Regions from separate parts of the Homo sapiens genome. Here region 1 is linked to region 2. Evidence: fine-mapped expression QTL. A gene starts in region 2. The other region holds a variant in brackets. All regions are shown on one strand. Distances are from middle to middle. Region 1 overlaps ZNF114-AS1 (ZNF114 antisense RNA 1). Region 2 holds the start of EMP3 (epithelial membrane protein 3 (MAM blood group)).

The links.
Region 1: its variant is fine-mapped to the expression of EMP3 in whole blood (TOPMed, PIP above 0.99).

The regions. Positions count from the first base shown.
Region 1 is chr19:48,266,721-48,269,628 of GRCh38, forward strand. All of the region lies in intron 2 of ZNF114-AS1 (ZNF114 antisense RNA 1), which reads right to left. Among named protein-coding and RNA genes, the nearest start is that of ZNF114, 1.9 kb to the right of the region's middle. RefSeq lists an enhancer at 373-422. The variant G/C (reference allele first, on the strand shown) is at 1,213.
Region 2 is chr19:48,323,702-48,326,544 of GRCh38, forward strand. EMP3 (epithelial membrane protein 3 (MAM blood group)) reads left to right here and starts at 1,851. Exons shown (of 5, transcript NM_001425.3): 1 at 1,851-1,909. RefSeq lists a silencer at 866-1,097 and enhancers at 1,675-1,724, 2,325-2,374, 2,665-2,734.

The sequences.
Region 1 (2,908 bases), 57 kb before region 2:
TGAAGGCATAGGTGAAACGGGATATTGAGGATACCAGAAAAGAAGCAGGTTTTTTTGTGGTTTTTTGTGGGTTTTTTTTTTTTTTTTTTTTTTGAGACAGAGTCTCGCTCTGTCACCCAGGCTGGAGTGCAGTGGCGCAATCTTGGCTCACTGCAACCTCCGCCTCCTGGCTTCCAGCGATTCTCCTGCCTCAGCCTCCCAAGTAGCTGGGATTACAGGCGTCCACCACACCCAGCTAATTTTTGTATTTTTAGTAGAGACTGGGTTTCACCATGTTGGCCAAGCTGGTCTCGAACTCCTGATCTCGTGATCCGCCCGCCTCAGGCTCCCAAAGTGCTGGGATTACAGGCGTGAGCCACCGCCCCTGGCCAAGAAGCAGGTTTTTGAAGGGAGAGGATGAGAAAACAAGGGAAGGGAAGCACTGCTGGAGATGAAGACCCAGAGAAAATAGAAGGGAATTGGACACCTACAACCACTAGAGGTCGCAAGAGGAATATCCTTTAGTGCCCTGAGCCCAGACCTGAACCAAGGTTTAACAGGGTTCTTCTCAAGTCCTTGGACTCCTTCGGTCATAATTTGGGAGCCTCCAAAAAGGAGAGCCTGAAATGAGGGCTTACGTGCAGGTAGTTTATTTGGGGAAGAGGTCAGAAATTTTCTTTTTTTTTTTTATGGAGTTCCGCTCTTGTTGCCCAGGCTGGAGTGCAATGGCACACTCGGCTCACCGCAACCTCCGCCTCCCAGGTTCAAGCGATTCTCCTGCCTCAGCCTCCCGAGTAGCTGGAATTACAGGCATGCGCCACCACGCCCGGCTAATTTTGTATTTTTAGTAGAGACGGGGTATCTCCATTTTGGTCAGGCTGGTCTTGAACTCCTGACCTCAGGTGATCCGCCCACCTCAGCCTCCCAAAGTGCTGAGATTACAGGTGTGAGCCAACGCCCCCAGCCCGAGGTCAGAAATTTTCTTATGTCACATTGTACTTTTTTTTTTTTTTTTTTTTTTTTGAGACAGAGTCTCACTCTGTTGCCCAGGCTGGAGTGCAGTGGCACGATCTCGGCTCACTGCAACCTCTCCCCGTCAGGTTCAAACAATTCTCCCGCCTCAGCCTCCCGAGTACCTGGGACTACAGGCATGCACTACCATGCCTGGCTCATTTTTGTATTTTTAGTAGAGACGGGGTTTCACCATGTTGGCCAGGCTGGTGTTGAACTCCT[G/C]ACCGCAGGTGATCCGCCCGCCTCAGCTTCCCAAAGTGCTGGGATTACAGGTGTGAGCCACCATGCCCAGCCATACATTTTACTTTTGAACACTACATACCGTGGAATACTTTTCAGACTTTAAAAGGAATGAAATACTGATACATGCTTCACCGTAGGTGAACTTGGAAAACATTGTGCAAAATTAAATACGTCAGACACAAAAAGGCAAAGGCCGAGTGATTCCACTTCTAGGAGATTCCTAGAACAGTCAAATTCCTGGACACAGAAAGTAGAACAGAGCTTACCAGGGACTGAGAGAAAAAGGGAATGGGGTGTGATTATTTAACGGGTACGGAGTTTTAATTGGGAAAGATGACAAAGTTCTGGAGATGAATCGTGATGATGGTTACACAGCGATGTGGCTGTACTTAATGCCACTGAAGTGTACACTTTAAAATGGTTCACATGGAGGCCGGGCACGGTGGCTCATGTCTGTAATCCCAGCACTTTGGGAGGCCGAGGTGGGTGGATCACGAGGTCAGGAGATCGAGACCATCCTGGCTAACATGGTGAAACCCCATCTCTACTAAAAATACAAAAAAAATAGCTGGGCGTGGCAGATGCCTGTAGTCCCAGCTACTCAGGAGGCTGAGGCAGGAGAATGGCGTGAACCCGGGAGGCAGAGCTTGCAGTGAGCCAAGATCGTGCCACTGCACCTCAGCCTGGGTGACAGAGGGAGAGTCCGTCACAAAAAAAAAAAAAAAAATGGTTCACATGGAAATGTTTGTGATGTATATTTTATCACCGTAAAAAAATGTAACTGGGGTAAGTATGATCAATATTTGGCAATTTAAGCTTTATGGTAGAATTTCATTACTAGAGTGAAGAAAGACAGTCCATAAAAAATAAATTATTTAGGCCGGGGTGCAGTGGCTCATGCCTGTAATCCCAGCACTTCGGGAGGCCGAGGCAGGTGGATCACCTGAGGTTGCGAGTTCGAGGCCAGCCTGACCAACATGGAGAAACCCCGTCTCTACTAAAGACACAAAACTTAGCCAGGCATGGTGACGTGTGCCTGTAATCCCAGCTACTCGGGAGGCTGAGGTGGGAGAATTGCTTGAACCCGGGAGGCAGAGGTTGTGGTGAGCTGAGATTGCGCCATCGCACTCCAGCCTGGGCAACAAGAGCGAAACTCCGTCTCAAAATAAATAAATAAATAAATTATTTAATTGACCAGATAGGGACTCCCAGCCCTTCCTTCCTGGGGAGCTCCAGGAGCTGGCTGGGCTGGGCTTAATCTTTCCTCCCAAAGAACCAAAAGAAAAAGAGATGCACATCAAGGTTTGCTGGGGACCCTCAAAGGAAAAGAAACGATGTAACTCGAGTAGAGGATAAACGCTTTGTTCAGCTGATTTGCATCAGGGGCACCTGAAGATCAAGCGACTCCCCAGTTAAGCAGAGTCAGGGTGGGAAACTGAGTCTGTGTCCTAGAGGTCTGGGTTTAGGCAGTCATTTTGGGTTTTGTTTTGTTTTGTTTGTTTTGAAACGGAGTCTTGCTCTGTCACCCAGGCTGGAGTGCAATGGCGCTATCTCAGCTCACTGCAACCTCCTCCTCCCAGGTTCAAACGATTCTCCTGCCTCAGCCTCCCGAGCAGCTGGGATTACAGGTATGCACCACCATGCCCAGCTCGTTTTTGTATTTTTAGTAGAGACA
Region 2 (2,843 bases):
AGAGCTTTTGCACTTCCTCTCCCCCCGACGCCCCCCCACCACTCCCCAACCCCAGCGTTCAAATGACTCCTGTCTTCAGCTCAAATGTTACCTCCTCCAAGAGGCCTTCCCTGATTTTCCTGTTTCAAGTAGTCTTCCCTGCACTCTGTCATTATCTCCATCACTCTGTTTGATTTATTATTGTATTTATTTTTCTTTTCTTCTTTTATTTTTTTTTTTCTTTAAGATGGAGTCTTGCTCTGTCACCCAGGATGGAGTGCAGTAGCGTGATTTCAGCTTACTGCAACCTCCGCCTCCCGGGTTCAAGCAATTCTCCTGTCTCAGCCTCCTGAGTAGCTGGGTTACAGGCGCCCACTACCATGCCTGGCTAATTTTTGTATTTTTAGTAGAGACAGGGTTTCACCATGTTGGCCAGGCTGGTCTTGAACTCTCGACCTCAGGTGATCCTCCAGCCTTGGCCTCCCAAAGTGCTGAGATTACAGGCATGAGCCACCACGTCCAGCCTATTGTATTTATTTTTCAAGTCACTTATCCTTATCTGAGATTTATCTTCATCATTGATGTTTTCTCTTGTCTGTCTTCCTCTACTAGAATACAAGCTCCATAATACCAGCAGGGCTCATGTCTGTTTTCATTATTAACTCCCAGATCAGAGTACATGTTCAATAAATGTTTGATGAAGGAAGGAACAGGTTAGGTGTGTGAGTGTGCCAGTATTACCTTATTCATTCAGCATAAGTATCAGAATTATTATTATCAGTATTAGTATTTTGTCAGCATTATTATACTCTCAACATAGACTAAGATACTGGAGCCCAGGTGGGTGAAATAATTGGCTCAAGGTCACTGAACCAGGAAATGATGGCGCTGGGATTCTTAGCTTCCGCTTCCTCCCCGCTTCCAGAGTTTCACAAGGTTTTTTTTTTTGTTTGTTTGTTTTTTGTTTTGTTTTGTTTTTTTTTTGCGACAGAATCTCACTTTGTCCCCCAGGTTGGAAGGCAGTGGTGCAAACTCAACTCACTGCAGCCTCCACCTCTCGCGTTCAAGCGATTCTCATGGCTCAGCCTCCCAAGTAGCTGGGATTACAGTCGCCCGCCACCACGCCCGGCTAATTTTTGTATTTTTGATAGAGACGGGTTTCCACCATGTTGGCCAGGCTGGTCTCGAACTCCTGACCTCAGATGATCTGCCCGTCTCGGCCTCCCAAAGTGCTGGGATTACAGGCGTGAGCCACAACGCCCTGCCGAGTTTCACAAATTTCATCTCCCATCCTCTGACCCCCCACCACGGGGCCAACTTCACCAGCCCAATCTCAAGTCCATGCCACAGAAATCTGGCCTCTTTTCCCAGACTCCTATCCAGCTCCAAGCTCCATCAGGGAAAGCAGACATCCGGCCCCAGGGCAAGACCTCAAAACTCAAGGGTCCTGAGAATCGGGCCCTCCCACCCCTGACGCTTGCCCCCCCCAAGAACCCCATTCCAAGAGTTTCTCATCTCAACCCTGGGAGGGAGCCCCAGATGATGTCTGTCTGGAGGGATTGGGTGGGGGCCCAAAGAAAGAGGAACCGGAGTGCCTGGGCCCTCCCACTGGCAGCCGACCTCAGCTGGGTGCGGTGAGGGTGGGTTTATAAAAGGGTCAGTATATATTGAGAGGAGGAGAGAAAGAGAAACGGGAGCAAGAGAGAAGGAGGCCCAGACAGTGAGGGCAGGAGGGAGAGAAGAGACGCAGAAGGAGAGCGAGCGAGAGAGAAAGGGTTCTGGATTGGAGGGGAGAGCAAGGGAGGGAGGAAGGCGGTGAGAGAGGCGGGGGCCTCGGGAGGGTGAAAGGAGGGAGGAGAAGGGCGGGGCACGGAGGCCCGAGCGAGGGACAAGACTCCGACTCCAGCTCTGACTTTTTTCGCGGCTCTCGGTAAGTTTCCAGTCCGTTATTCAGGGCTGGGACTTCTTAATTTACTTGGGAATGTAGCAGTTTGGGAAGGACACCCCCAGGCTGGGAGAGACGTCCCTGACTCTTGGAAATCCTTTTAATTTAATAAGTGATCTCTTAGCACTTGAGGTGGGGATATGGGAAGGGGTGGGGCCCGGCAAAGTTTTGGGGTCCCAGCAGAGCCCTCCACTGGAAAACTTCCTGCAGTTTTTCCCTCAGCGGTGTCCACTGTCCTCTGGGGTCCCTGAGATCAGGGCATTGCATGAGAACACCCCAAATCTGGGAGACCTCTAGGTCCCCTGTTCCTGGGCACCAAAGAGTCCTGGGAGGCTAACTCCTTCTTGGGCCTCTCTTCCCCCCAGCGCGAATCCTATCCATTTCCTCCAGAAGATGTCCAACAGTCACCAGTCTGGCAGCAGGGTGGGGTGAGGACCTCGTGGACATAGCCAGGGGCTGGGGTTTCCCTGGTGCTTAGAGATGGGGGGGGGTGGGGATGAGTCACCAGATGACTCACCAGGTCCCCCTCCTCCCCTCAACCCAGGAGAGGAGTGGTGTGAGTCAAGAATGCCTGTTGCTGGGGGCAGCTCCTCAATCCTGATGTCGGGGTGCAGGGTGGGGTCTCAACTTGAATTTTCACTATCTGGCCTGTATGTAACCCAGAGTCAGGGTTCTGGGGAGAGAGGAGCCACATTGCTAGTCCTCCTCATTCAAGGAACCCAAGAGTCCATCTTTGGCCCTCTCCACCCCTCCAGCCAATGGGGATCTCAGGAATCCAGGCCCCAGCGGTCTCCTCCCTGAGAGACCCAGGAGTCTGCACCCATGCCCTTCCTCCATCAGGAGACATCTCACCTGCCTTTATGCCAAATTTTTTTTTTTTTTTGAGACGGAGTCTTTCTCTGTCACCCAGGCTGGAGTG